Linked DNA regions of Homo sapiens: region 1 is linked to region 2. Evidence: fine-mapped expression QTL. A gene starts in region 2. The other region holds a variant in brackets. All regions are shown on one strand. Distances are between the middles of the regions.

Region 1 (16,399 bases), 55 kb before region 2:
CTAATGCCAAAGGAATGCAATGCCCGAGAGCTGTACTTCATTTCCTCTGGGCCAAAGGGTGCTTCATGGTCAAAATAGTAGAGAAGCATGTTGCTTGTGGGTAATTGTACTAGAGTTTTTAACTGTTTCTTTAGTTCTGCCACTGTTTGGTCCAGACGAATGCTCATTTCTTCCACCTGATCGTTAAAGTGGACTTCTACTTTTGCACTGCTCTGGGGTCTTAGGTCCACTTCTGCCAAAGGCTCCAACTTCCCATATTTAGTGATCAGTTCATGATACCTAGAAGGATTAAAAACAACACTGTCAGCTTAAACTACTAGCACATGTACTGTGGACTTCTTCCCAACTACAGATAAACAATATTACTAGGCTCAACATCTTTAAAAAATCTTATTCTATCACATGACTCCTATGGACTCTGTGATCTAATATGAGTGCCCTAGGGAGGCCACAGTAAAACTGGGGAATCATTTTTCCTGAAGATGGTCACTATGCCTACTGTTAATCAATTATTACATAAGAACAGGCTTAGGAAAAAAATGGAACCTAGAAAAGTAGACACTATAAAGACAATAGAAGTTCAATCTCTCTGTAGAACTTGCTTTCTTGGGTGTCATCATCAAGAAGGGCAGGTATCTAGGCATGTACCCCTTGGGAATAGATGGAAAGATGGAAGGAGGCCAGCAGTTTCTGAGGCCTGGAGAAGCCATAACTTATAAACAAAAACATGTAGTTCTTTGTTACTAATTAACCAAGCTCTTTCAGAGATGCCTTGTTTGAACGTTCCAATCTAATTTCAGGTGTAATACACAGAATTTATGGAAGAATTAAGAATACATTCTTGGAAAAAAGTGGTAAGTAAGGGATACATGTTTCTTGATCAAGGAAGGAATACAAAGGAAAAGATACCAAGAGGAAAGTGAATTACAGAGATGAGAATAGGGCCCACAAAGTCATGTTTCCCATAGAGAAAATCTTGTCTGCACTGCCAGCCCTGGAGGATCTAGATCTGATTTTATCAAGGACACTTACAAGTTTCCTACGTACCAGAAAGGGAAAAAATGCTGAAAAAAATTAATATTAGTTTTATTAAAACCAAGATACAACGAAGTCACTTTAATTAAGGATCAGAATACAAGTCACATAAAATTATCCCCCTACTTCCTCCACACCACTTTCAGCTTTAACTCAGTTAAAATCAGTGTCATAATAAGGTTTGTGGGTGCATTAAACATACAGTAAGACCACTGTGGCCAGGTGTGGTGGCTCACACCTAGAATCCTAGCACCTTGGGAAGCCCAAGGGGAAGAATCACTTGAGCCCAGGAGTGTGACCAGCATGGACAACATAGCAAGACCTCACCTCTTAAAAGAAAAAAGAAAAAAAAAGATTGCTGTGCTTAGAGATGGAAGTAATCATTTCCAATAAGTGGAGTAACAGGGAATATGTAAAAATAGCCCTGGCTCTGTCTTCAGGGTCTTGACTCCATTTTATAATTAGCTGTGTGACTTGGCAACTCACTGTCTTTTTGGATCTCAATTTCCTCATTAGTAAAATTAGGAATAATTTCTGCCCTTCCTACTGTATAAGACAGTCATAAGAACCAAATAAAATAACAAATGAGTAAACACTTTGTAAATTCTATGTTCATAAACAAATAAAATACTGCTGCTCTGAAGCTTATTTTAAAGCACACACAACCATTAAAAAATATAAGATTGCCAGGCACGGTGGCTCACGCCTGTAATCCCAGCACTTTGGGAGGCCATGGTGGGCAGATCACGAGGTCAGGAGTTCGAGACCAGCCTGGTCAACATGGTGAAACCCTGTCTCTACTAAAAACACAAAAAATTAGCCAGGGGTGGTGGTGCGCGCCTGTAGTCCCAGCTACTCAGGAGGCGGAGGCAGAAGAATCGCTTGAACCCGGGAGGTGGAAGTTGCAGTGAGCCGAGATTGTGCCACTGCACTCCAGCCTGGGTGACAGAGTGAGACTCCATCTTAGAAAAATAATAATAATTATTATTATAATTATATATATATGCATATTTATATATATGATTGAAATCTACTTAGGTGGGACTTCAGGATGTAAGGATTTTAGCAAAGGCAAATAAAACAAAACAAAGCAAAACAAACAAAGACAAAGCTGCCAGGACTTGAAATTTTCCAAGGCTCTAAACTGAAAAGGTAAGATGATTCAAAGTCTAGGGGTATCTTTTCCCCACCCCATATCCTAGTATATGCCTTCAAATAACTGAAACTAGGTTATGAAAATTTAACAAAATCTCAGAAAAGACAGCAGAACCCAGTGGTCAAATAAGAACTGAACCCAACTCTAGAGATGTTTTACCTTCAGACTATGGAAAAGTAAAATTGTAATACCCTAGCTCTCAAATTTTGCCTAGGAGTAACAAAAGAAACAATGTCAAAGTGGACAAAGAGAATTTACTCATACTACATTTCAACAAAGAGATGACATGAAGACAAGTGACCACTTCAAGCACAAGCAAGATAATGAGACACAAAATGGCAACTGAGCGCATATCACAGCAAAAAGAATAAAGGAGAGGAACACATAATAAGTAAAAGACAGAGGCAGAACTCAATTTGAAAGAAAACACAACTGAAGAAAAAGAAAACACTCCACAAAACTCAAAAGTCTAGAAATTAGTAAGTACTTGAATATAAAAACCAGCGCTCAAAGACAAATGATAAACTGCAGAATGAGATGAAAATGGAGACTGTAGAGCTAAAGAAACAAACTGAGGAGCAAACCACCACCACCACAGACCCAAATAAATGAATCAGAAAGAATGGCCCAAAATTATTATACCTAACCTAGTGCTTTGGTTTGAATGTGCTCCCCCTCACCAAGCTCATGTGCTGGAAACTTAATACCCAGTGCAACAGTGCTGACAGGGGGCACCTTTTAGAGGCGACTAGGTCACAAGGGCTCTGCCTTCATGAATAGATTAACGCTGTTATAGAGGGAGTCCACCCGTTATCCTGGTAAAGTGAGTTCAGCCCTCTCTTGCTCTCTTGTCATTCCTCCTTCCATCATGGGATGATACAGTAGAAAAGCCACAGCCAGATGCTGGCACCCTGATATTGGACTTTCTAGCCTGCAGAACTGAGAAATAAATGTATTTTCTTTATAAATTACCAAGTCTGTGGTATTGTTATAGCAACACAAAATGAACTAAGGCACCAAGTTTTTTTTCAGAAATAAATTTAACAAGCAGATATTCTAAAATGAGAAATAAGAAACAGAGCACCATGAGTCCTTCTGGTAAAAAACAAAAACAAAAACAAAACCCCAATACTCAACAATGAGATTAAAGAACTAGGGATAAGCCCTGAATCTAAATATAAAACTAAAACATAGTAACAACTGTATACTCCTAGACTCATTTATACTTGACATTATAGCCAATTGAATTAATCTCAACCATAAACATATTTGTACACAAAATTATGACCTACATTCAGAAATTAGCCTACCTTCCATAAATGGGCAAGTACATCTAAAAATTAAATGACCTATAAATTCAGACACTCTGAAGTCTCAGTTTTCTCAAAATCAATAGGTTCAAAAATAATTGCCACTCCCCAGCTGTGTTCTCTTCTAGTCTTTCGTATCTCAGTAAGTGGCACTGGAAACTATCTAATTATCCTAGCCAGAAAGTGAACAGTCATTCTTATTTCTTTCTCTCCTATCTCTTCTCCAATTCAATCAATTCAATCAATTACCACATTCAATCAATTACCACTTCCCACTCATTATCTTCCTACGTATCCCATCAATCTATCTGCATTTCTCTTGTTCACCCACCTCACAAATTCAGGCCACTATAATTAATAACCTAGATTGCTACAATTTTTTGTGGCTGCATAAACTAGATGAGCTTTCTCAATATCTGTTTCAACCTCCTCCTGGTAGGCCTTCCTGTACTACCAAGACTGAAAAGCTGAAAAATACATTTCCCACACTCTCTTGCCAATGAGATTTAGCTTCTATCAGTCACAGCCCTGGAGAGAGGCAGTAGATCTAGTAGATAGAGTGTGGAAACAGTTTGGGTAGAGGCTTCCAAATGACTAGATCACACAGTTCAAGCAGTCTGTTTCTAGAGTCAAGGACCCCAGCAGCAGCTTGCTGATCTCCAGATCACAGCTAAAGTGGTGTGATCAGCACCAGGGACAGCAGCTTGCTGATTTTCCCTTTCCCTGATTCCTTACAAAGGTGCGCAGTGCCCTTGGTGGGCCAGTTCCATGGTACTACTCCAGAGTCAATCCTAGAGAGGAGGCCTAAGTCTGCTCCTCCAGCCCTTCCACAGATTTTGTAAGCACTTTATTCACTGTATGAAATCCCTTTCTTCTTAAAATAGCTGATGGCTTTCCACGACCTCAGGGTGGCCCCAAGACAATCCTTGTCTTTATGATAGCCACAGGGTTTGTTATAAAGCACAAATTGTATCACATCACTCCTCTACTTAAAATCACGTAATACCCATCAAAATAAAGTCCTAACTCTTCAACATGATTGTGGTAAGCAGAATTTTGGCTCCCATATCTGGGTAGGCCTAATCTAATCATATGAGCCTTCAAAAACAGAGTTTTTCCAACTAGTAGCAAAAGAGGAAGTCAGAGAGACTCAAAGCACCAGAACCTGACACACCATTGCTGGTTTGAAGATGGCACACATGAAAAGTATAAGAAAGAAGAGAATTCTGCCACCATTCTGACTGTACCTGCAAAGAGATTCTCCTCCAGAGCCTCTGATATAGAAAACAGCCCTGCAGACACATTGATTTTGGCCTTGTGAGACCCTAAGCAGAGAACCCAGCTGAGTCACACTGTGCCCAGACTTCTGTCCCACAGGACTGTGATTATACTAAGTAGGCATTGCTTTAAGCCATTAAGTTTATAGTAATGTGTTATAGCAGCAATAGAAAACAAATACAATAAGCATAAAAAGCCCTCCATGATCTGGTTCCTTCATAACTTTTCAACCTTATTTTGTGTCATCACCATTACCATTTTCTGCACCTTCCTTTCCACTTGTTTAAATCTTAAAATCAATGTTTATTTATTAATTTATAGGTAAGGCCAGCAGACTTTTATAGATGGGTTAGGCTTTGGATGTGGGCTCTGAGAAATATTCACTATTAAATACAAAAGAAGAAAGAGTACTAGAGTTGTGATTTACTATACATACATATATATATATGTTCCCTTAAAAGTTACATAAATAAAAATCATGGTTTCAAGATAATCTGTTTTCTCCCAATTTTCTTATTTTCCACTTATCTTTAAGCAGGAAAGATTAGTAAATATAAGAAATCATGATTTTACAAAATATCCAGTAAATTTGAGAAAGCAATTCTCTCCTAGTCTTTCAGCTTATATATTTTATTCATTATGCAAAAGTCCATCCAAACTGAACTATACTGCATGCATTGCATGCCTGAGCTTTTCTTAGCATTAGTTCCAATGTCTTCCTGAAGTATACTCTGAAGAGGTAGATGGTTTCTGCTGACTAAGCATTCTCTGAAATTAATGATTTTGATTTATATTCTACCAATCAGTATCTTCATCTGACCATTAACAAGTATTTAATATTCATAAGCCCCACTTCTGAAGTGTGCAAAGTGTTATAAACCTACTTTGGAAAATATTACCGATAAGGATGTATTACAATCATCAAATGCTAAAATGTAAAGTACGCCGTATTTGTGTTCAGAAGTTCTCTGGTCCATTCCACCATGACCTTCTAACAGAAAATGGCCAATCACAAGTAAAAAAAAATTTACTACAAACAGCATAAAGGCCAGCATAACCACGTGGGCAACTGAGAGTGATAAATGGAAACCAAATGCTAGCTGCAACCTTGTGAAGAATACCACCCACAAGCAAACTGGTGTGTTTTTTCCCCCTTCTTATTAAATAAAAACACCCACTGAGAGAAAAGCTTCTTTCAACCTTAGGGGTCTTTGAATCATAAGCAGTTAGAAATCAGGCTACCAGCAGTGTGGGGTTGAAGGTGATACTAACAAAGAGGGGAACAGAGAATGAAGCCACCTGTGGTGGAACCAGGCTAGCTCTACTCCCAGTGCAAATAAGCAAGCCTTCATACACTCAGGTCCTGGTCCATGGCACACCTGTCTAATGTTACATAACAGCAGATTTTAGTAGCACGGTGGTCATTTTTAGGAGAGGTATGCCTGTTTCTCCATCTTGCCAATCCTCACTCTTGATTCCCAAGACCTGGGGGCATTTCCTCAATCACAATTCAGTCACATGTACTCCAGAATAGGAAGATGTGGTACACTATTTGAAAAAGACTACAGGTTCCTGCCATATGTCTTAGTCTGTGTTTCTATTTATTATAAAACCTAAAACAAACATTAATTTTTTCTCAGGTTTGATTAGCCTTATAAACGATCCTAACTAAATAAAACAAAGTATATATTTTACATAATTTTTAGGAAATTGTAAAATGAAACTTTGTCTAGAATCAGGGACTTTCCAATGGCGAAGGCATTCAGATTTGGACATCAAATCTCCAAATTCACAATCTTTAGGAGTATCCTAGAGAAAAATAAGGGGATTTACATTTTCTGCAGGTGGCTACGCAACAATGGGATCATAAATATCCCAGAAATACTCTATTTATCCCTTACAACTGTCTAGAGGTGTATTCATGGGTAGCTTACATAGTAGTCTCAAGTTAACAATTCTGTTAATCTATCATTCCTGAAATGCAGACACACATTGAATCAACCGAAGTCTTTACTCTAGGTAATGCTATATTACTTCCAAATAAATCCCTAATACATACATCTCTCTCTTTAAGAAATGTAACAAACAAAACATGAAAAATCCCAGATGGTTCACTTGGTTAAACCAAATCTTGAAGTTTAATTAACTAAAAGAAAAATACGGCCAGGCATGGTGGCTCACACCTGTAATCCCAGCACTTTCAGAGGTCAAGGTGGGTGGACTGCCTGAGGTCAAGAGTTTGTGACCAGTCTGGCCAACATGGTGAAACCCCGTCTCTAGTAAAAATACAAAAAAAATAGCCAGACGTGGTGGTGTGCGCCTGTAATCCCACCTACTCAGGAAGCTAAGGCAGGAGAATTGCTTGAACCGGGGAGGTGGAGGTTGCAGTGAGCCGAGATTGCACCACTGCACTCCAGCCTGGGTGACAGAGTGAGACTCCGTTTCAAAAAAAACAAAACATTTATCGAGTTTGTTTCCCAAGGCATTGGGAGGGATTCAAAAGTACATTCAAAACATCTTCTGACTGCTGTTTTCTAATGTCTCTTGCTATAGTATGCTTTCTCACTTTTGATGTGGCATCATATCCTGGGACATCAAAGAAACATTCTACAACTGGGACTTGACAACCTACTCAAGGATTTCTCAAGGTCACCAACATTCCACTTATTAAAACACATAAGCATCACATTTTATAGGTAGGAGGAATCTTAGAAACCATCTATTACATAATTTACAGATGTAAAAATTGAGACCCAGTTTGTTAACCCAAAGCCTCATAGCTAGTGAAAGGAAGGGTGGAGATTACAACTCAGGTTTTATTCTGAGACTATCTATCACTGTTTTAGTTTCATCATCTTAGTGGTTTGCTGCAATAATAAATACTGTTCTAGAAATTATTTTCTCATTCCTACATTTCAAATGTCCCCATTCAATCTCTCTTCAAGGGTTCTCATTTCTCTTATTATCACCTACACTTGGGGAGTCCTAAAAATTCACTCCTGGGCTCTCTTTTCTTTTTATGAGTTCCATCACAGAGCTCATTCTCCTACTTACCTGAAGCCATAGATGTTTCCCACTTGTCTTCCCCAAATATCTGCATTTCACCTACCTCCAGAATTATTTAATGTCACCTTTCACACATATAGCAAAGTATCTTGAAGTGAATTTAGTATTTTCCATTTAGTTTTTCAACAGAGCTTAAGTCATGGAACTACATTTGTTTCAACTATTTCTTAAATTCAAGTGCTATCAAAAATCATCTAGTAATGGATAAACAGAATGTGATCTATTCATATGATAGAATACTATACAGCAGTTAAAAGAATGATTTTAATCCACATTTATCAACATGATGCACTTTTGCTCCAAACATAGAGTAAAAATTGATAAAATGTAAAAGGCTGAAATCTAAGAAGATATAGCCAGTCTCAAAAATGATAAGCATCTCCATGGACCAGAAACTGAACAGAAATACAAATCATAGAACTAAAACTACAAGACCTCCAGGCTAGAAATCTAGAGCAGCAGAAGCAGTAAGGAGTTCAGGTCATACAAGGCAAAGGAGATGGAATGTGCTTCATGGGAGGCAGGGGAACTACAGACAGGTTCCCTGCTTGAAGTAGGGGTAGAATTGAGTGATGAGAGGCTGTGCATGAAATGAGGATGAAAAAAAGAAAACTCCTGCAGATCCACTGCCTAAGGCTACCTTTGTAGAGCAATGGTTCTAATAAGTAAAGGAATAAAAAGATAGCTCCACCACCAGGAACTGAATTAAATCACTTGGTGCTTAAGACTAGGAATATGCACTAGCTCTGTAATTACTGCAGGACAGGTTCTCCAAATTCCATTATAAGAGCTGGTTCTGGACCAGGAGTTAGGGGAGCTGCTTAGAGGCAAATGCAAAACCATTAGACAGGGAGAGACGAGCTCCAGCAGAAAGACGTAACAATCCAAAATGCATATGTATCTAAAAACAGATATGTACACAAAAAATAATGAAGCAAAAACTGGTAGAACAACAAATAAAAATAAACAAATTCACAATTATTGTTGGAGAAATCAATACTCCTCTCAGTAATTGATAAAACCGGCAGACAGAAAACTGTTAATGATATAAAAGACCTGAATAACATTAACAACTTGACCTGGTATTTATAAAACATGCCCACCAACAATATCAGAATACACATTTTTTTCTACTGCATATGAGATACTGACCAAGAAAGACCATATTCTAAACCAGAAAGGTACCTCAAATATACCACAACAGACTTTAAAAGAATTGAAATAGTAAAACGTACGTTCTCTAACTATAATGAAATTATACTGGAAATAATTAACAGAAAGATGACGAAAATCCCTGGAAAGATAAGGAAAATATCTGGAAAATAAACAACATACTTGTAAATAACCCAATGAGTCAAAGAGGAAGTCACAAGATAAATTAGAAAATATCTGAATTCAATGAAAACTAAAATATAACAAATCCCAATTACAGAATGTATTTAAAGCAGCACTTAAAGGAAAATTTATAGAATTAAATATTATAATAGAAAAGAACAGTCTCAAATCAATGATCTATGCTTAAAAAAACTATAAAAAGATGAGCAAATTAAATCCAAAGCAACAAGAAGGAAGAAATAAAGATATGAGCAGAAATCAATGAAATATAGCAAATAAAACAGAGAAAACTCATAACACCCGAAGCTGGTTCTTTAAAAAGGTTTGCAAATTTGATAAACCTCTAGCTGGACTGATTAAGAAAAGATGATGCCAATATTGGCACTATAAGAGGGAACATCACCACAGACCACATAGACATTAAAGGCTTATGATAAGCAAATACTATGAAAAACTTTATGCCCATAAATTCAACAAGCATAATTAAATGGATGAATTCCTTCAAAAATACAAACTACTAAAGCTCACTCAAGAAGAAACAGATAACTTGAATCATGCTATATGTCCATTAAATAAATTTAATTCATAGTTAAAACCTCCAGCAAAGAAAACACCAGGCTCAGATGGCTTCACTGATAAATTCTACAAAATATCTTAGAAGAAAATAACACTGTTCTACACAAACTCTTCCAGAAAAAAAGGAAAGAACACTTATAAATGAGGCCAGCACTACCCTGATATCAAAATAAGACAAAGACATTATAAGAAAATTACAGACCAATATCCCTTTATAAGCATAAACACAAAAATCCTTAACAAAATATTAGCAAATCAAATTCACCAACATATAAAAAAAGATACTACATCATAACCAAGTGGGATTTAT[T/C]TTGGGAATTCAAGGCTGGTTAAAAGTGCAATTAATATAATTCACTATATTGATACATCAAGTAAGAAAAATGGTATAGACTTTTCAATAGATGCAGAAGAAGCATTTGAATAAATTCAGCACCCATTCATGAAAAGCTCCAGCAAACTTGGAATAGAAGGAAATGTCCTTAATCAAATAAAGGTCATGAACAAAAAAACCTATAGCTAACATCACTTTTAGTGGTGTAATGAATGATTTTTTCCTAAACAGGGAAAAAGGCTAGGTGTTTGCCATGACTACTCCTATTCCGATACTATATTGGAGGTCCAAGTCAGTGTAATAAGGTCCAAAAAACAACAAAAATGTAAAAAGTCATACTGGTTGGAAAAGAAGACATACACTGTGCTAAGTAACAGACAATATGACTGTCTACAATTTATTAAAAATCTACTAGAATTAATAAATAAATTTAGCAAGGCTGTAGAATACAAAGTCAATTACAAATACCAATTGTAATTCTATGCCTAGCAGTGAACAACTGAATTTGAAATTTTAAAACAGTACTACTTATAACAGGGCCAAGATACATGAAATCCTTAAATAAAATGTAGCAAAATATGTGCAGAATCCTTATGTGGAAAATACACAACACCATTTTTAAAAAAAATACTTAAATAAATGGAAAGAGATACTGGGTTCATGGACAGGAAGACTCAGTATTATTAAGATGTAAATTCTGGACAAATTATTCTATAAATTCAACACAATGCTAATCAAAATCCCAGAAGAATGTTTCACAGACTTCAACAAGCATATCCTAATATTTATATGTAAGGCAAGGAATTAGAACAGCTTAAATCATGCTGAAAAAGATCAAAGTTGGAGGACCCACACTACCTTAATTGAACAGTTACCATAAGGCTATAGTAATCAAGATGGTGTGGTACTGGCAAAAGGACACAGACATGGGTCAATAAACACAGAATACAGAAATACGGGCCACCTATATGATTAGTTTATTTCTGACAAAGGTATAAAATCAATTCAATAGAAAAAGGATAGTCTTACCAGTGAATATTGCTGGAGTAACTGGCACCCATACGCCAAAACAAAACACTTAATCCGTATCCTACCCCACACAGGAAAATGAACTGTACCATATAAGCTAGGTGTGTAGTAGACTATACTATCTAAGTTTATGTAAGTACACTTTATGATGTTCACATGACAAAATCGCCTAATGATGCATTTCTCAGAATGTATCCCTGTCATTAAGCAACACATGACTGTACTTAGGTGTAAATCTAATAAAAGATGTATAGGACTTGTACGTTGAAAATTACAAAATGCTAGTGGAAGAAATCAGAGAAGGTCTAGACAGAGAGACATACTGTATTCATGCACTGGAAGATCTCACATACTAAAAATATTAACCTTCCCCAAACTCATCTATAAGTTTAATAAAATTCCTGTCAAAACTCCAGCAAAGTTTTCTTGCAGACAGAGACTAAATTAGCCCAAAATTTATATGGAAAGGCAAAGGCCCTAAAATAGCTAAAACAGTCTTGAAGAATAAAGTGTGAGGAATCATTCAACATGATGCCTCAGCTTCTCCCAACACTAAGCTTTTCTCAACAGATTTAGGTTGAGGTTCATTTTTTTTGCCTATAGTGATCCAGTTGCTTCAGCACTGTCCATTGAAAAAGCTGTCTTTTCCCCACTGCATTGCTTTTCTACCTTTTTCAGAAATCAGGAAAGTATATTTGTTTTGGTGTATTTCTGGTTTTCTTTTCTGTTCCATTGATCTGTATGTTTGTGACCAGTATCACAATCTCTTGATTACTGTGACTATATAGTAAGCTTTAATTCATGTTGAATGAGGTCCTCCAGACACACACAATAAAGTGCACAGAACTTAAAACATACACACGCCCTTGTGTGTATGTTACAGTTCTCACACAAGTGAGTGTGTGTGTGTATGTTTTAGTTTGAGAAGTCTCAGTAAGATCACTGGACAATATCCACATTAAGATTCTGGTTGTGATACTGTACTGTGGTTCTGCAAAATTTTACAATTGAGGGAAACTAGGTGAAGGGTACACAGGATCTTGCTGTATTCTTTCTTGCAACTGCATGTGAATCTACAATTATCTCAATAAAAATTTCAATTAAAAAGAGACTACATACATGATTCCATTTATCCGACATTCTGGAAAAATCAAAACAGCAGGGACAGAAAACAGATCAGTGGTGGCCAGAGGGTAGGAGTCAGGAAGAAGGGTTGAGGAGTATGAGATTTTTTTGGATGATGGAACTGTTCTATATTCTGATTATATTGGTGGTTCTATGACTGTAGTGTTTGTCAAAATTCAGGAATGTACACTAAAAGGGGTAAAATTTATGTCACATACTTCAATCAATCTGACTTTAAACAAAGGACACTACTAAAAGATAGTCATTAGCAGGGCTGATTAAGAAAAAATGGAAAGGCAGAAATAGACATTATTATGAATAAAAAGATGAATATTGATATAGTACATTTTTAAAATCACAAAGACCCTCAACACAGATGCTATTGAAGATCTATGGTTAAATGAAAAAGAAAACATAGAGTACAGAATGTATTGTTTTGTGAACACTTGTGTACAAAAATTACGCACAAAATAGCGATGGAAACTATAACAAGAAAATAGTATCAGTGGCTGCCTAGGGGCCAAATACTTGATTAGCTACTAAGGATACAAATGGGAAGAAGACTTACTTTGTAGTATACATCCTTTTTAAAATTTCCAATCAGGTTCCATGTGGAAGTATTGCCCATCCAAATGAAAATTAAATATAACAATTCAAAAATTAAAACACCTACCCCCAAATCGTAAGTGACTATTAAATTTTAAATCTGAATGAAACAGTTACTTAGTAGAGAAAATATGAAATCACGAACTCAATTCAATTTTGAAGCTAGTACAACCTTCATAAAACCAGACAAGAACCACAAAAAATTACAGACCAATTTTACATATCAAAATAGATGGAAACATCCCAAATAACATTATAAAATTAAATTCTACATGTTTAAAAAGAAAATTTAATATTTCCCAACCAAGTTGAATATACCAGGAATGCAAAAATGGTTCAATACCTGAAAATGTATCATATTAAAATTTACAGAAGAAAATATGCTCATCTCAATGCAAAAAGAACATTCTACAAAATTCAATGTCTACTCGTAATAAAAGAAACTCTTAGAAAAATAGAGATAGAAACCACCTGAACCTATCAGAACCCTATAGCAAAAGTCAGCATTCATATCTACATATTGAAACTTTAGATGCATTCCCTGTCAAGTGAGGAGAAAGATAAAGATGACCTCTTTTACTGCGCATTTTAAATATTATACTGGAGGTCATATCCAAGAAAAAAAAGAGGTATAAAAATTATGTATAGATATGACTGTCTAAATAGAAATCCAAAAGAAAATGAAGATTAACTACTCTATATGTAAGACTGACAGACACAGGATCAGCATAAAAAAAAGACATTTCTATAGAGCAACAATAATCAATTAGAAATGATAACAGAAAAAATGATTTCACTTCAAATAGCAACAAAATGTTTAAGATACCTAAAAAGAAACTTAACAAAAATGCAAAGGCCTTTGCAAGAAAATTAGAAAACATTACTGAAGGAAATAAAAAATATTCTGAGTTAAATGAAAAAAACATTCTATGTTCACAGATAGGAATATACAATAGCATCACAATGTAAATTCTCTTCAAGTAAGTAAATAAAATTCAATGTAATCAAAATCCAAATTACAACAGGATTTTTATAGAACTTATAAGCTGATCCTAAAATTCATATAGAAGAGAAAAGGGCCTACAATAATTAATACAATCTGAAAAGCAACAACAAGGTAGGGAAACTTACTGTTATTGGGAATTAAGACTTAATATAAAGTAATTTACCAATGTTGTAATAGTACAAGGGATGGACAAATACACCAATGGAATAGAACAGGGTCCTGAAACAGAAGCATACATACAAAAAATAAGACATATGACAGATGTGGCATTGCAGATCAGTGATAAATACCAATTATCCATATGGGGCCAGATCTCTATTTGAAACTATACATAAAAAGTAATTCCAGGTAGATTTAAGTCATAAATATAAAAACACCTTTAGAAAAAAATTAGGAACTTACGTGAACTTTGGGGGAAAACAGGTTTCTTTAAAAAGATGCAATAAGAATAAACCACAGAGTTAAGGATAGACAAATCAGACATTAAAATTTTAAAGTTTTTTTCAACAAAATACGAGGTGAAAAGACCAGGTTGAAAAGCCACAATATGAGGGAAGACAGAGCAATTCATACTAATAAAGAATTATAAAATGCTACTTTATGTTTTAATGGAGATATAAAATATGAAAAATAGACATCAAGCATACAAATCAAATTTCTGCTGGTGGTTACTTCTTGGAGTAAGAAATAGGACTGAGAGTAGTAGAAAAAAGCTATTCCAATTTTATGTATAATATTATTTCTTTTTAATGAAAAATAAAGTAGAATAAAATATTAACTATCATCAGTTCTGAACAGTGTGAACAAGAATGTTTTATTACTCTCAATATTTTTTAGTATTGTTTTACTGACAAAAAGCAAACAAAAACGAAAAAGATAAAACTGGCCCCTTGCCCTGGCCAAAACAAAAGTTCAGACAGCAAAGAAAATTTCCTCCAAGCCCATGATTTGGGAGGACTGGCTCTCACTCTCTCTTTCCTTTCCAAGTATATCCAAATACTTGTATATGACTCCAATCAAGATTAGGAAGGTAGTTTGCCTTCTGCTGGGCTGGGAAAGTGGCAAGAAGTCAAAATAAAGTCCAAGGTAACTGGAATGACAAAGGCTGTAAGCAACAGGGAAAGCTAACATTTCAGAGGCTCTCCATGGTGCACGAAGGAGAATGCCCCTTTTGTTTCTCCTCAGACTCACGGCTGAATGTGAGGAGTGCTAGGAGTGCTGTGTCACGGCCCTTGTCAGAGGATGATGGAGCATGGCAATATGGAGAACCCCAGGAGACTCATGTCCAGTATAGAAATGTTCCTTCACAACAGCAGGTCCTCTGTCTGGAAGGAATATGAGGTAACGGACACAGCACACTAAGATTTCTCCAGCATCCAAGACAAAATAAGCCTTCATTGAGGTGGTGTCCAAATACAGGCTGCTGCCTGCTCTCACAATAACATGGAGATACAATCAGCTCTATTTAGAAAAGCCATTAGTCTTAAGCAGGGAAAAACATACTCTCCATATTTTAAAAAGCATACCACTAATGACAATCAAATCAGCATTTGAGGAATTCCTAATGTAATCCTTGCCATCATAAAGGATTTCCCAGGACATAGTTTAGGGATTACTTGGGACAAACAGAAAATAAGGTACCAAAGAAAAGAAAAGGCAAAGAAAAGCCTCTAAGAAAACCTGTTTCTGGCATTGCCACCGTCTCTGACAATGGTACTTCCTCTTTCCATCAAATAATTGTTCACTGGAGCTATTTTAAGACTCCTCCTTATGATAAGCAAAATTTTAAAGTCTGAAAAGGCACCCTAAATCAATGCATTTACTTCCTACCACTGCCCTCAAAAACAAAAAGAAATCATTGAGTTCCCAAAGATACATGATATGCTGACTTCTAAAAGTTGCATTTTTTTTCTCTTTAAAATTAAAGAGGATGACTGTGTATTAGGTAAGCACTAAAGAAGCAATTTAGATTCAATCTATCAGAGGAAATGGAGAGAGAAAGTAAACACAAAATGAAGGGAACACTGAAAAATACAAGCAATGTGGATAGACATCTGATCAAGGGCAAGGCAAAAATAATAAACATGTACACTTGACTATGTGCCAGACCCACAAACATGGAGGTTTCTTTCTCTCTAAATGATATTTCTATACCCTCAGAGAAATCAGGGCTATAAATACCAGACAACAAGTACAACTTCACGATGTGTTTTCTGAGGACCAGTTCAAATTCTAGAGTGAAATTCAGTCTTAATACACATAATCTCTCTAAAAAGACATAAGCAATCTCCACCACACATATCCTCCTTTACTAGTCTCAGTTTTTAAGTCTCTGGGTCTCTCTCAGCTGCTGCCTTTTTTTTTTTTTTAAATACTTTAAGGTCTAGGGTACATGTGCACAACGTGCAAACATGTGCCATGTTGGTGTGCTGCACCCATTAACTTGTCATTTATATTAGGTATTTCTCCTAATGCTATCCCTCCCCCCTCCCCGAATCCCACAACAGGCCCCCGTGTGTGATGTTCCCTGCCCTGTGTCCAAGTGT
Region 2 (16,399 bases):
TAATAGGAAAAGAACTTTATGATCTTGATTTAGGGAAATATTTCATAAAGAAAACATTTTTAAAATCCATAAAAATAAAGTTAAGCAGCCAAATGAAAACTTGGCCAGTCATGGTGGCTTACATCTGTAATTCCAGGACTTTGGGAGGCCAAGGCAGAAGGATCGCTTGAGCCCAGGAGTTCAGGACCAGCCTGGGCAACATAGCAAGACCCCATCTCCACAAAAAAATCAGTCGGGCATGGTGGCATGTGCCTGTAGTCCCAGATACTTGGGAGGTTGAGGTGGGAGGATCACTTGGGCCCAGGAGGTGAAGGTTGCAGTGAGCAGAGATCATACCACTGCACTCGAGCCTGGCAACAGAGCAAGACCCCGTCTCAAAAAAAAAAAAAAAAAAAAAGAAAGAAAAAAGAAATACTTTCAATCATCAAAAGACATTAAAAACATGAAAAGACAAGCCAAAAACTGGAAAAAAGATACTTGCAACACGTGTAACTAATACAGAGAACTCTTAAAAACAGTAAGAAGGAGGAAGACAACCTAATAGGAAAATGGACAAAAGACATAAACAAGTACTTACTAAAAGATAAAATTAAAATGTTTAACATATGTAAAAGATGCTCACGTTCAATAATTTTCAGAGACAAAAATTAAAATCTCAATGAGATACCATTTTATGCAAATCAGCAAAACTTAAAAACTCTGACAATACCAAGTGTTGGAGAAAATGCAGAAGAACAGAAACTGGCAATGTAGCCAGTGGGAGTATCAACTGGTACAAACACCTTGGAAAATAATTTATTACTGTCTAGTAAAGTTGAAGACGCACATACTCTATGATCTAGCAATTCCACTTCTCAGTATAAACTCTACAGGAACTTGTAGTGTGCACCAGGAAATAAGTAAAAGAATGTCCGTAACAACAGCATTGCTTAAAACTGCAAAAATCCTGGGAGGATTGCGGTGGGGGGGAATGCAGTGTGGAGAAGCCCTTATATCTAAGAACAGGCAATTGGGTAAATTACAATATATTCATAAAATAAAATGTTACACAGCAATGGAAATTAACAATTGGTAGTTCATTATGCCTACTTCCTCATCAACATGAATGGCTTTTGAAAAACAGTGTTGATTTGTTCACACAGGGCAGAAAAATAAAACAATGCTGAATGGGTAAAAAAAAAAAAAAATCACAAGAATATATACAGTATAATTCCATTTATACAAAATTTTAAAACATGGAAATTAGCCATCTTATCATTTAAGGTTGCGTACATATATGGCAAAAACTGTAAAGAAAAGGCAGAGAAAAAAACACAAAATTCAGAATAGTGGTATCCTTAGTGGATAGTATGATCAGGAAGGCAAAAACAGAACTCTGAATTCCCTCTCCAAATCTGCTCCTCTTCCACTCATTCCCATCTTGGAAGTTATATTTGACTTTTCTCTTCTTCTCATACCCCTGTGTAACTAATCAGCAAGACCTATCAATACCACATCCAAAATATCCCAATTTTGCCCAATTTTGTCCATCTCTATTACTTTATTCTTGTTCAAGCCATCATCAACTTCTCACCAGGACCTCTGCATTAGCCTCCGCCCTGGTCCCTCTTGACTCTTATACAAATCATTCTCCACAAAGCAGCCAAGTGATCTTTTCAAAATTTAAGTCAAATCATGTCCTTTACACTCTCCAATGGCTCCCCTTCACATGCAGAATAAAATCCAATCTCTTCATCATGGTCGCCAAGGATTCATTTAATCTGATCACTGCTTACATCTCTAACCTCATTTCCTCCCACTCCTTTCCTGGCCCACTACTCAGCCTCCGTGGTTTTCTATTTCTCAGACTTGCCAAGCTGATTTCCCCCTACAGCCTTTGCATTTGCAGGATTGCCCTTTTCCTGTCTCTTGGCAGAGCTGCTTCATCTCAGTGTTTAAGTCTCAAATTTAAACACAAATGTCACCCTCTCAAAGAGGCTGCTTCTGACCACCCCATCAAAAATAGCACTACTGCCACCATCACTCATAGTCACTTCACCCTCTGTCATTCTTTATAGCACTTATCATAATCCGTTAGTTCAGTGTTTGTTCTCCAGCAGAAGATAGGTCCCACACAAGCAGGGATTTGTCAGTCCAGTTCAGTTTTGTGCAGAGCAGTGCCTGGCATATGATTAAAAAATATTCATTGGATAAATGGAAAAGTGAATTTCATTATCAATAGACATGAAGCAACACCTTCTGACAGTGAAATGAAAATGAAGCTCACCAATGGCAGAATGAGAAGAAAAATTTTGAAAATCACCGGAAACGCATTATTCCAAGAACAGTTTTAAATAACTTTTCACAATAGTACTTGTTATGGATCACATTCCTAAGAATGATTAGTGATTAATCAAAGTTTCACACAGTTTTAAGATCCTGAATTTGGGAAATGGGCTACCTGTTTAAATTTCATTTTTAGAAGAGCACTGTGATTAAAAGCATGGTCTTCAGTTAGTTCTGAGTTCACTTATGACTACTGTGTAATTTGAACAAGTTACTTACCTATCTCTATGCCTGCTTCCTCACTTGTAAAATGAAGCTATTAATAGCCATTTCACAGTTATTGTGAAGACTACATGAAATAAAGTTTTTGAAGCATCTAGTTAAGTACCTGGCATGAAGTAAGTGGTCAATAAACTAGTTATTATTGTGAAAGCTGAGACGTCCAGACAAATGGAGGAGCTGATATGAGTCAAATAAACAAACATCCTCCCCTTTTGGCAGAGGTGGGAATACATGCCAGGATTAAATCGTTTTTCCCTCCAAAAAGACAAATGTACACAAAGGTAATATATAAGAAGCATGGACAAAGGACTTTGAGAACACTGAGGGAGTGACTGTCTTCACTAAGGAGGTCAGTCACATGTAAAACTGAGTTTTACAAGACAGCAGCAGAAATGTACTAGATGAAAAGAAGGGGAAAGCATCTGCACAAACACAAATGAGTGAGAAATGCAAAATAAAGTGAGAAATGTAGTGTAGTTGGTGTAGAGTATAGAGTATATGTGGGAAGACGGCTAGAAAATAAAGAATTGGTAGGGCCAGATGGTAAGGGGCTAAGGTCCACCATTCAAAAGTTTGCACTTTATTCTTCCATCAGTGGGGAGATGAAGGGGAAAAATCCTAACATGCTAATTTGATACCAATTCTTCTAAAGAAGGCGGAAACACCTTTATGACTTTAAACACCACATAGGGCCACAATCTGTTAATGTAAAATAGAAAATATTTTAAGCCTTAGTTCTTAAAACCATATGAGCAATTTGTTTGTTAACAATGACTGATCTGGAACCTCTCTTCATGATGTTTTATTATTACTGCGGTGACCACTGTTGTGCTAGGCATCATCATGACAGCAGATAAAATCTATTGTAAGTTTATTATGTGTTGTGTACTGTGTTGTTTTATATGTATTATCTCACTTAGTTATCACAACACTTTTATAAGGGGTACTATTATCCCATTTTGCAGATCAGAAAACTGAAGCAGAGAGGTTACGGGCCCAGAGCTAGTGACAGAGCCAGGACTCAAATCTAGGCTGACTTCAAGGCCCTAAAATTAAACCAGTTTGCTGAATTATGATATTGCTCAGTTCATTAACATCACTTGCTGAAAAGTTATTTGAGTACCTACTGTAATTTAAAGCATCAGGCTAGGTCAGTGACTTTTAACTTTTACTGTATGGAAGAATCATCCAGACAGCTTGATAAAATGCAGATTCCTAGATTCCACCAGAGATTCTGATTCAGTAAGTCTAGGTCAGAATTCAGGGATCTGCTTTATTTTATTTTATTTTATTTATTTATTTATTTTTTTAAACAGTGCCTCACTCTTCTTGCCCAGGCTGGAGTGCAATGGTGTAATCATAGCTCACTGAAGCCTCAACCTCTGAGGCTCGTGATCCTCTGGCCTCAGCCTCTCAAGTAGCTGGGACTACAGGCATATACCACTATGCCTGGCTAATTTTTTAATTTTTCATAGAGATGGGTCTCCCTACGTTGCCCAGGTTGGCTTTGACTCCTGGATTCAAGCGATCCTCCTACCTCGGCCTCCCAAAGTGCTGGGATTACAGGTGTGAGCCACAATGCCTTGCCGGATCTGCATTTTTAACCATACGTTCAGTCAATTCTGATCTACTTGGTCTATGAACTACGCCCTGGTAGACCCTGTGCTAGATGTCCTAGTTTTTCATGGATATTTGAGCCTCCTGTTCACCACGCATTTATAATCTAAAAGGGATAAAAATAAGGTGCACAAATAATACAAAGCAATATAGCAAAGGCAGTACAGACAACATAAGCAACAAAGACTTCAAAGAAGAGGGGTCATCTGAAATGAAATGAGAGTGAGTAGGATTTCATGAAGAAAGGGAACATTTTATATGCAGACTTTCAGGGATAATTTTACACACAAAGGAAGGTACATGAGCAGAGGCCTTGGCAGGTAGAGGAACTGCATTTAGGAGTGTAATGATGATGCCAGAAAAAAAGTAGAGGAAGTCTGTAGAAGGCCCTAAATATCAAGCTAAACACCATGGGCTTTATTCAGTGCCTGTACTGGAAAGCAGCTAATGGTTTTTGAGGAGGGAAATGAAATAATCATAGCAATATCCTTTGGAAGAGTTCTCTCATGAAGCTATGCAAGCAAAAGACAATGGGAACAGTCCAGTTATTACCATTCTAATTCCAAAGAAGTAAGTCAGAATGGGTAGCATGAAAAAGGGAGGAATAGTAAATCTCAATAACTAATCACGTGTAGGAGAAAGGCAACAATCGCAAATAAGGATTCCTTCACCCTTTAAGCCCAAATTGTATCACTATCAGTTTCACATTACTTCTTATACAGCTAACCAGGCCCAAAATATATAAAGAGTTCACTTATTTAAAACACAGCCCAGGACTAAGTAAACTGGTCTCTAAGTAGCCAACATACATGTCACACAGTTCACACACTAAGAAAAGGAAAAAAAAGTATTATATAACAAATATAAATATCTGATTTTCAAAACCATAGTAGTTTGGAGGCAAAAATTAGAAGGAGAAAAGAGCCTGCTACAGGTGGACAGGCTTAAGAGTCTAAGGATCAGAGAAGAAACAAAAACTATTAAAAAGCACACACAATCACTCAGGGTCACTTCTCCGTAACTGTTTATTGACAAGTACATATGATTCCCAGAAAAATGAAATAAATAAGAATCTTCCTTAATGTTCCAGGCACCTACAAAACAAAATCTTCTTTAAACATTCATTAAAGCTAAATATTTTAAAACAAATATTTCCCTGATTAAGAGGTCATTTTTAAAGGATGGCTGATATATGCCAGCATAACGCCTCTATCAGTACCTAATAAATAATTAAAGGCAAGAAAGATTTATAACACACAAAGTTCAAAGATGATAGAATGTTTTCGTAAAGCATTTGATCAAGAATGTGGCCCCACTGATGAAGTTTTAACTTGGGTACTTCTGTCCTGATGACCGTGTCTTTGAATTCTATGTTACAAATAATACGAACTCATCCTCAAAAAAAGAAACGCTATTAAACTGGTCTTAAATACATACCCTGTGTACCTACTGAAATTAGACAACATCCTTTGACACTCAATGTCCTGCAGCAATAGGCTATGTAACAACTTTTCAAAGGACTTTAACATTACAACATTTAACATTACATGAAGGACTCTCACTTTGTTCACCAACAGTCATTAATGTTTATTATGAATTAATACTATTTTTCTAAGGACCCCACCTAAAATTTTTGTAAGGGGAATTAAGATGTTAACTGATTGAAAGTTATACTTAGGTTTATGATTAAGTTTATATACCAAAGCCGTAGACTGTAAGGCTTTTAAATATGTCTATGGCTTTGGTATATATTTTATCGTGTATTTTTCATATATTTTTCATCATGTAGCAAAAAGTATATCATAATAATTACTGCAGTAAGAAGAATTTGGGATGTTTTTAAATAGCAGAAAAGAAAATCAGTGTATCTTCACAACATTGGAACAGTAAAATAAAATTTCTTTAACTATGTTGTGATAAAGCAACTAAGTGGAACTAGGCCTCTCATATTTCTCAGACACAGCAAAGGATAAAGGAAACTAAAACACACACGCATACAAAAAATTTCATCAATCAAATGATCAGGCAACATCAAGATATTAAAGATCAAGATTATGGTCCTTCAGAAAACACAGGTCAAATATGCTACGTGGTATAAACATCTAAACCGAAGCAATCAATTGCACCTAGCTGCCCTCCTCCCTCTCCCCCGGCCAAAATAAAATAAAAAAAAAAAAAATCCATCTCCTTAGAATCATCCCTGCTCTTTAGAAGCTTACAGAATGAGGACACTGATTGACACCAAATAAATGTGCTTCAGAAACAGTGTTTTTCAAACTGCAAGTTGTGACCCACAAATCATCAATTTAGTAAATGTCAGCCAGCATTTTTTTTAATGCAAGAGGGTGGAATATAATAGAAATTAGCAGAACATATCACATATAATAAGGGTAAATACTGCTTTGTGAAAGTTTCCCTTCATACCTACGTATGTACTAGATCTGAATGTAAGACATACTTATTACTGTGGGGCATAATTTTTTTTTTTTTAAGTTTGAAAGCTACCACCCTAGAGATCTGGGTCTAATGCATCTCAGGACCCAAAGAGTGAATGTTTTCCTTAGTCCTCAGCACCTATTCATACTCTTTGCTCAAGATAGACTACTGGAAACGTAAGAGCTCCACAGCAGCATGACATGAACAAGGGACAAGCCCCAGCTCAGCCTGTATTTGGACTTGAAAGCATTACCAACTTCTCTCAACAGCCCTAGGCGTTGCCTACAAGCTCTTTGTAGCCTAGCAACCTTCACAGTAGAGCTCCTCCTTTCTCCACTGACTGTATACAGTTCAACACTTCCAACCAACTTTCCTCAACTACAACTTCTGGAATCACTGTGTCCCAAGAAAAGACTATTAAATCTCCTCTCTTCACCAATTCCCAGAATGTCTTCCTACTAGCGGACCTAGAACTCAACAGAGAAGCTCCACACAGATCCTTACTTCCCCCAAGATCCCACGACAAGGCACCCGCCTGTCAGTCCAACACCCTCGTTCTCAGTCTCCCAACCTTGGGGCAAATCTTTTCTCCCAAAAGCCCTTATTCAATTACCACATCCACATCCTTTTATCAGCCCCTGGTAAGAGCAGGCCTAATGTCCCAAGGGCCTAGACATGCCCGTCCTTCCCCCAGCAAACCTCCCTGGGGACATGTCCTCTTTTCTGGGATTCAGTAGTTCAGAGACAAGTTTCCTATTTCCCCAGCAGTCCCAGACACGTCTCCCTCTTCTAACAGCTGGGAGGCATCTACCCATCCCCCACGCTGGGGCAAGGTGAGACGCCTAGATTCTCCCAGGAACCCGGGCAGGCTCCCCAACACGCCCTCCTCCAACCCGGGACCAGTCCCCCAGCCCAGCCCAGCCCAGCCCAGCCCAAGACCCTCCCAGCTCCGCCATAGCCCAGGCCAGGCAGGCCCCATCCTCCCTCTAGCCCCAGGGCAGGTCTCCCATCCCCACAGCTGCTCGAGACAGGCCCCATGTGGCTTTCACCCTTCCCCGAGTGTCCTATCCCAGCACCCTGCAGGAGCGACCCTCCGCGCCTCGGCTCCAGAGGGGAACGCCTCGGGCCTCGAGAGCCCGGCAGAGCCAGCGGGCCCGGCTCCACTCACCCCTCAGCCCGGGAGGCGGGGGAGCTACTGCGGCGGCTCCTCTGGCTGCGCCTCTCCTCCCCCCTCCCGGCCACCGCTGTCGCCGCCGCTCAGCCTCGGGCCTGGTCCCGGCCAGCCCCGGCCCGGCGCCGCTTCACCTAGTCCCCCACTCTGGCCGCCGGAGCCCAGTGTCCTGCATTGACCCGGAAGCAGCTTTCCCGGCCCAACAACAACACGTGACCCCGCCGCACGTGTCACGTCCGCTGCGTGAATGGGAGGGGGCGCCGGAGGAGCGGGTCCTCCCCAACCGCGCTGGGGTTGCCATGGCGACGGGGATGGCTGCACTGGCTTAGGCTTTACCACAAACACCTCATCTGCTCTTTCTCGTGCCCACCCATTGAGTGGACAATCCCCAGGGGCAGAACAGGAGTACACATTGTCATATCAGAGGACAATAGGGGCTGCAGAAAAGAGCATTGGGCTGAACCTTTCCAGAAACACTTGGAATCTTGGCCTGGCTCTGTTACTGATTTGCTGTGTGACCTTGACCAAGTCTCTTCCTATCTCTGGCTTCAGTGTCCTCAACCATAAAATGAGGGAACTATACTAGATGAGCCCTCAGGGTATGGTGGCAGTCTGACCTTTCTTCTGTGCCCCCTTCACAAGTGGCATCCCGAGCTTCCAACACCAATGTAGTAACAGCAGCTTTCATTTATTGAGCACTTTCTAGGTACAGGCACTGCGCATGTGCTATTTTTAATTTTTACAGCCCTCCAAAGAGATGGTATTTATAGAATTGAAAACAAGTTCAGAGTGCTTAAGTGATCTGCCCAAGACCACCCAGTTAGTAAATGTGACCAGGGTGAGATTTGAATCCAGGTCAGGCTGGCACCAGGGTCCATGCACTTCACTTTATGCCACGCTATTGCTCCAACTCCATGCATAGTATTACTATATCTGACTGTTGAGCTGTGATTGCTTATGTACTCCTTCGTCCATTTCTTTTGCAGAAACATACATGGAATAGGCGTGGTGCTGGCTCAACCCCAAGTGAATTCAGCCTTGTATGGGAATGTCCCCTGAAGTGCTAGGAGATGAAGATGTCTTTGTGCATAAAGTGTATGTGCTTCTGTGTGGTGTGTGCCAGAAAAGACGTGGGGGATGTAATGTGCATGTGCATGTCTGCATTGGTTTCTAGAAGGGGGAAACAAAATTATTTAGGACAGACCCAATAGCACCTTACCATCATCAGTTCCTGGAGACTTATTTTTGTCATTCTGTTTTGTTTTCTCATATCCCATAGGTAGGGTTAGACAGGGTAGAGAGGAAAAAAAAAAGCCAGAAGGTCATGGGTAAAGAAACTGCTCTGAGTATAAAGGGGATGATTAGCCAAGAATTGTATCTTAGGTTGCTCAGGAAGGGGCTTTACTCCCCCTTCCACAGAGAACAGAGTGCCTTTCTTGGCAATTTAAGAATTACTGGCTTTCAGAGCACTGAGATCATTAGCATTGTGTCCGGAATTGGTGGGTTCTTGGTCTCACTGACTTCAAGAATGAAGCCGCGGACCCTCGCGGTGAATGCTACAGCTCTTAAGGTGGCGCGTCTGGAGTTTCTTCCTTCTGATGTTCGGATGCGTCCGGAGTTTCTTCCTTCTGGTGGGTTAGTGGTCTCGCTGGCTCCGGAGTGAAGCTGCAGACCTTCGCGGTGAGTGTTACAGCTCATAAAAGCAGTGTGGACCCAAAGAGTGAGCAGTACTAAGATTTATTGAAAAGAGCAAAAGAACAAAGCTTCCACAGTGTGGAAAGGGACCCGAGCGGGTTGCCACTGCTGGCTCGGGCAGCCTGCTTTTATTCTCTTATCTGGCCCCACCCGCATCCTGCTGATTGGTAGAGCCGAGTGGTCTGTTTTGACAGGGCGCTGATTGGTGCATTTACAATCCCTGAGCTAGACAAAAGGTTCTCCACCTCCCCACCAGATTAGCTAGATACAGAGTGTCCACACAAAGGTTCTCCAAGTCCCCACCAGAGTAGCTAGATACAGAGTGTCCATTGGTGCATTCACAAATCCTGAGCTAGACACAGGGTGCTGATTGGTGTGTTTGCAAACCTTGAGCTAGATACAGAGTGCCGATTGGTGTATTTACAATCCCTGAGCTAGACATAAAAGTTGTACACGTCCCTACCAGACTCAAGAGCCCAACTGGCTTCACCCAGTGGATCCCGCACCGGGGCTGCAGGTGGAGCTGCCTGCCAGTCCCGCGCCGTGCGCCCGCACTCCTCAGCCCTTGGGTGGTGGAAGTGACTGGGCGCCGTGGAGCAGGGGGCGGCGCTCATCGGGGAGGCTCGGGTCGCACGGGAGCCCATGGAGGGGGTGGGAGGCTCAGGCACGGCGGGCTGCAGGTCCCGAGCCCTGCCCCGCGGGAAGGCAGCTAAGGCCCGGTGAGAACTCGAGCGCAGCGCCGGTGGGCTGGCACTGCCGGGGGACCCAGTACACCCTCTGCAGCCGCTGGCCCGGGTGCTAAGCCCCTCATTGCCAGGGGCCGGCAGGGTCGGCCGGCTGCTCCGAGTGCGCGGCCCGCCAAGCCCACGCCCACCCGGAACTCCAGCTGGCCCGCAAGCGCCGCGTGCAGCCCCAGTTCCAGCTCGCGCCTCTCCCTCCACACCTCCCTGCAAGCTGAGGGAGCCGGCTCCGGCCTTGGCCAGCCCAGAAAGGGGCTCCCACAGTGCAGCGGTGGGCTGAAGGGCTCCTCAAGTGCCGCCAAAGTGGGAGCCCAGGCAGAGGAGGCGCCAAGAGCGAGCGAGGGCTGTGAGGACTGCCAGCACGCTGTCACCACTGCCAGCACGCTGTCACCTCTCAGCATGGCCACAGTCAAAAGTAGCCTCAGTGGTGAGGACCATGAGAAGAGCGGAGTAAAATGTACAAGGTGGATGCTGCATGGATACTCTGTTGACAGACTTACTTCTGAGCTCAGGTACCTTTGGGGACACCCAGAAACGCTTAAGAGGCTAGTTGCCCTGTGAGCAACTAGGAAAAAAGCAAGAAATATGGGTCATTACTGTTAACAAATACTATGTGCAACGTATATAAATACATATATGAGTATTGTATGTGGCTGGGTGTGGTCGATTATACACTTCTTTGTATCTCTGAGATATCCTCCAGTCATTTTTCTGCTTCTTTTCCCATCTTTCCCCTTATAGATGAAACTTCTAAAGACAAGATCAATGTCTCTACCCACCTCCCATCTTTCTCCCCAAGACAGCCAGAATTATCTTTCTAAAACTTACATCTGTAATCTCAGCACTTTGGGAGGCTAAGGCAGATGGATCAAGAGGTCAGGAGTTTGAGACCAGCCTGGACAATATGGTGAAAGCCCGTCTCTACTAAAAATGCAAAAATTAGCTGGGTGTGGTGGTGCAAGCCTGTAATCCCAGCTACTCGGGAGGCTGAGGCAGGAGAATCGCTTGAACCCAGGAGGCGGAGGTTGCAGTGAGCCGAGGTTGTGCCACTGCACTCCAGCCTGGGTGACAGAGCGAGACTCTGTATCAAAAAAACAAACAAACAAACAAACAAAAACACATATGTGATTGTGTTATTCTCTGGAACTTAAAACCCTTTCAGGATTCTCTGTGGGTCTCAAGATAACGTCTATTATTATTAATGTACTTCTCAAAATTTTTCCAGATCTGGACCCTGCTGACTTTTCCAGCCTCATTTATCACTGCTATTTGCTCTTCTGTATCTGCTCTGTTCAATCTGGTCGCCACTAGCCACATGTGGCTATTTAAATTGAAATTAATTAAAATTAAGTTAAATTCGAGTTTCATTTCCTCAGTCACTTGACACTAGTTACATTTCAAGTGCTCAATCACCATATGTGGCTAGTGGCTATCATATTGGACCGGGCAGATACAGAATATTTTCATCATCACAGAAAGTTCTATTGAACTGCACTGCTCTATACTCACAAACCTTCCTGTATGATATATTCTATAGGAATTCCCTCCACAAAGCCATTTACTTCAAATGTTCTTCTTTCACTTCCTTGAGACAGAAAATTATACATAATAGCTTATTTCCTTGTTGTTTCTTTGGCGAGCATGTAAGCCTCAATGAAGGCAGGAGTAGGTCTATCATGTTCACTATTGATTCCGCATTATTTCTAAAGGGCTATCATATAGGAAAAGGAGAGAATGGACGTTGAACTAAACTGAGAGAAAATAACAGGCAGATTTGTGGCCATTTTATTAGATATTATTATTATTAATTATCATTTTAGACAGGGGCTCTCTCTGTCGCCCAGGCTGGAGTGCACTGGCACAATCATAGCTCACTGCAGTCTCAAACTCCTGGGCTAAAGTGATCCCTGCTTCTCAAGTCTCCCAAGTAGCTGTGACTACAGGTTTGTGCCACCATGCCTCCCTAACTTTTTTTTTCTTTCTAGAGATGGGATGTCACCATGTTGCCCAGGCTGGTCTTGAGCTCCTGGCCTCAAGCGATCCTTCCACCTTGACCTTCCAAAGTGCTGGGATTACAGGCATGAGTCACCAAGCCCAGCCAAAAAAATATTCATAATTCGATCACTTTGACTTACAAAGGGCAATTTCATACAGTGCAACCTAATAATAAGGAAGAACTTCGGGAGAATTGGAGCTGCTTTAGTCAGTTCTAGTTAATTCTCTGCCATTGGAATAGGTTGAGCAAAGGCAGAATCTGTTAAAACAATATGTGAACAATTCCTGGATCAGAAGATTCGAAGTCTTCTAAGATTCTCAGTCTATGTTTCTCCTACTGGATCTTTAATTCAGAGTCGAATATGCCATAACAAAAATCATAGCTACTTTCTAAGGTTTTACTATGCCAGACGCTGCTTGAGACATTTTATGTAGATTACTGTTTTTCCCTCAGTCTTCACAATGATCTTATGAAGTATGCTTAATGCTATCAGATTTACCAACTAAGACTGAGGTTGTCATACACCCAGCAACATACAACTAGTAAAAGGCAGAGTCCATATTCACATTAGGTCAGTCTGAAATCAGCATTTTAGTTCACAATGACCCTGTATTATGAGATATAGTTCTGTCATGAAGTTTCAGCCAGATATTTATTTGCATGTCATTTTAATTTAACAATTGCTTATTTTGTAAGAGTTTTGTTCCTTGTACTTAGCTAGGTGGTTTGGGGAAAACAAAGACAAATAAGGCATGGTCTCTACAATGTAATTGGAATGGTAACAGTGATACATGGCAACTTACGGGATGTTATTTTTTAAAAGGAGATAAGGGAATTATCTTCACAGCTGAAGGCTCTTCCCAAGTAGACAAGAGGATAAGGACATAATTATATGAGAATTTAATGTGAACAACAGCAGTGCACAGATGGGAACACAGGGGAAGGGAAAAGCAGCTGCTTCACTTGAAAGAATAATGGCTGGTTTGGTGACTGTGTCTTTAATACCATTCCTGGTTTTTCCACTAACCAGCTCTGCCTCTTAGACTGTTTCTGCCTGGAGCATTATCTACCAAATAACAGAGATTGGATAAACTATCATGGCAAACCACCTGAAATTATATATATTGTGTATATTACACATGTATGCATTTTTAAAAGGAAGTGTCCCAGATTTCATCAGATGCATGCACACACACACACACACACACACAAATTCTAAGTCAAAAAAATGTAGAATGGATGACCCCTTTAAATTTTGCAATTCTCAGATTCTATATTTTATTTTTGTCAACATTATTGACATATTTGTCAGGAGCTGTACTGTCATGCCAAGCCTAGTGACCAAGCAAAGGACAAAGATTTTTAAAATTTTAAACTGGGGAGTCATACCTAGAATTATTTAGAAAGAATCAGTATTTCCTTACTGGGCAGAATATGGTCTTTAAAAAACAACTCTTAATTTGTTTTTTTGCAATTTGCAATAGACCAGCCACAAAAAGCTTAATTTTCAAGAAGACCTTACATTAATTAAAATCACTTGCAACAAATTGCTAGAAGTCTCACTAACCTCTCATAATTTTTTTATTGTGAAGAATAACATACAGAAAAGTGCACATAGTGTACATAAATGCACAGCTCAATGAGTTCTCACAGGTAAGCATGTAACAACCTCCCATTTAAGTCATAGAACATTGCCAATTTCCCAAAGACTTCCCCCAGTACCTACACTCACAATTCTCCCCAAGTTAATTAACTGCTATTCTGACTTCTAATAGTGTAGCTTATTTTTCCCCATTTTTAAATAAATGAAATCAAACGAGATGATTTCTTTCACTTAATATTATGAGAGTCATCTATTTTGGTCCATGTAGCTATAGTTTATTCACTTTTGTTGCTACATGTATCTTATATTATAGTAACACTCTATTTATTTATCCATTCCACCACTGGACATTTGTGTTGTCTCCAGGTTTTGGTTATTATGCATAACACTGCTATGAACATTCTTGTGCTTGTCATTTAGGGCACATATAAACATTTCTGTTGGGAATATACCCAAGAGTAAAATTGGTAAATCCTAGCTTTAGATCAGCGTTGTCCAAAAGAAATATAGTACAAGTCAAGTCAGATATGTAGTTTAACTTTTTCTAGTGGCCACATTAAAAATATTTTTTAAAGTTAAATTAATATTAATCATGTATTTTATTAACCCAGTATATCCAAAATGTTATTTAGATATTTTGTTATTGTTTTCATATTAAATTCTCAAAATTCCATGTATAATCTACACTTAGAGCAATTTAGTCTAGCCACATTTCAAATGTTCCAGAACCAAAGGTGATTACTAACTACCATATTACCATATCTGCTATTATTTGGTTTCATTTACTGTTATTTTTCTAATTTTCTTATTTTCTAAAAAGTCTTTAAAGCGGTACATCTCTAAGTACAGCATTAGTTGTGAGTCACAGTTTTGATATGTACATTTTCATTATCATTCCACTTTAAACATTTTCTGATTTTTTTTAATTCATTGATGTGATGGATAACATTAATTGAGTTTTTAGTATTGAATCAGGCTTGCAAACCTGAAATATATCCCATTTGGTGTAGTATATAATTCTTTCTGTACATTGTTGGATTTGATTTTCTAATATTTTGTTGATGACTTTTGCATATATGTTCATGAGAGATATTGCTCTATGGTTTTCTTTTCTTGTAATGTCCTTGTGTTGTTTTGGTATTAGGGTAATGCTGGCCTCATAAAATGAGGTAGAAAGTACTCACCTGTTTCTATTGTCTTAAAAGATTATAGATAATTGGTGTAATTTCTTCCTTAAACATTTGGTGGAATTCATCAATGGACCCATGCTGGCTTAGGTGCTTTATGTTTTAGAAGGATATTAATTATTGATTTAATTTGTTTAAGAGATATAGGCCTATGCAGATTGTCTTCTTCTTGTATGAGCTTTGGTTGATTGTGTCTTTCAAGAAATCGTTCCATTTTTTTCTAGCTTATCAAATTTATGGGCACAGAGTTGTTCATAATATTCATTTACTATCCTTTTCATGTCTTTGGGATCTGTAGTGATGTTTCTCTTTCATTTCTGATATTAGTAATTTGTGTCTTCTCTCTTTTTGTCTTAGCCTGGCTAGAGGCTTATTGATTTTATTAATCTTTTCAAAGAACCATCTTTTGAGTTTATTGATTTATCTCTACCGATTTGTTTCAGATTTCATTGATTTCTGCTCTAATTTTTATTTATTTCTTTAGTTTGGATTTAACTTGCCCTTATTTTTCTAGTTCCCTAATATGAAAGCTTAGATTATTGATTTTATATGTTTCTTACTTTCTAATATATGCATTCAAGTTTCTAAATTTTTCTCTAGGCACTACTTTTGCTACACCCTACAAATTTGGACGTTGTATTTTCATTTTCATTTAGTTCAAAATATTTTCACTTGTGATTTCTTCTTTGGCTCATGAATTAGTTAGAAATATAGTTAATTCCTATAATTTTATGTTACTTCAACATCCATTTAAATATAAATTTAGCTTTCTCATACCAGATATCAGAAGCAGGACATAGTCACCTTTGACACACTTTCCAGTTGTCCACTTCCTTACAGTTCCTTAATGCAGTGTATCCAGTTATCTGCCTTATACAACCACCTCCCTATGGAATGGTTAGATACAACCTACTTCACTCACCCCTCTGATCCCCTTAACCCCCAAGGACTGCGCAGATATGCCACAGTAGCCCCTCTCAGTCACAGTGTGACCCCATGGAACTCTTGCCAACTTGCTTTAAACCCATCAGTTAGAACGCCTTGTGGGAAAACCTGCTTGGGTAATGACCCCAATAAAGACCATGGCCCACAGGTCCCTCTCTCTCTCTCTCTAGCTCCCCATCCACCAGTTGAGCATATATGTCCCAGATGGCTTTCTCCTTCCTGTTGGTTGAGGATACATTCTTTGTGAATGTTTAAAATAATTTGTGTTTTACAGTTGTTAAGTTCAGTGTTCTATATAAGCAATTAGATCACTTCTGTTAATTATGTGGTTCAATTTATATCCTTATTGATATTTTGTTATAAATTGATTTTGTAACAATTGTTACAAGCAGATTGATTACTTGTATCAGTTACTGAGAGAGGTGTGTTAAAATGTCTTACTAAGTCTATGGATGAATCTTT

The links. PIP is the estimated chance that this variant, and not a neighbour inherited with it, causes the effect. A credible set is the group of variants that fine-mapping cannot tell apart.
Region 1: its variant is the best candidate, but not a certain one, in a credible set for the expression of TBCEL in whole blood (INTERVAL, PIP 0.79).

The regions. Positions count from the first base shown.
Region 1 is chr11:121,070,658-121,087,056 of GRCh38, reverse strand. The region is part of intron 7 of TBCEL-TECTA (TBCEL-TECTA readthrough); the gene reads right to left. It overlaps TBCEL (tubulin folding cofactor E like), which reads right to left. Exons shown (of 9, transcript NM_001363644.2): 9 at 1-279. Among named protein-coding and RNA genes, the nearest start is that of TECTA, 22 kb to the left of the region's middle. The variant T/C (reference allele first, on the strand shown) is at 10,067.
Region 2 is chr11:121,015,661-121,032,059 of GRCh38, reverse strand. It overlaps TBCEL (tubulin folding cofactor E like), which reads right to left and starts at 7,958. Exons shown (of 9, transcript NM_001363644.2): 1 at 7,769-7,958. It overlaps TBCEL-TECTA (TBCEL-TECTA readthrough), which reads right to left and starts at 7,958. Exons shown (of 30, transcript NM_001378761.1): 1 at 7,769-7,958. RefSeq lists silencers at 7,705-7,974, 7,995-8,144.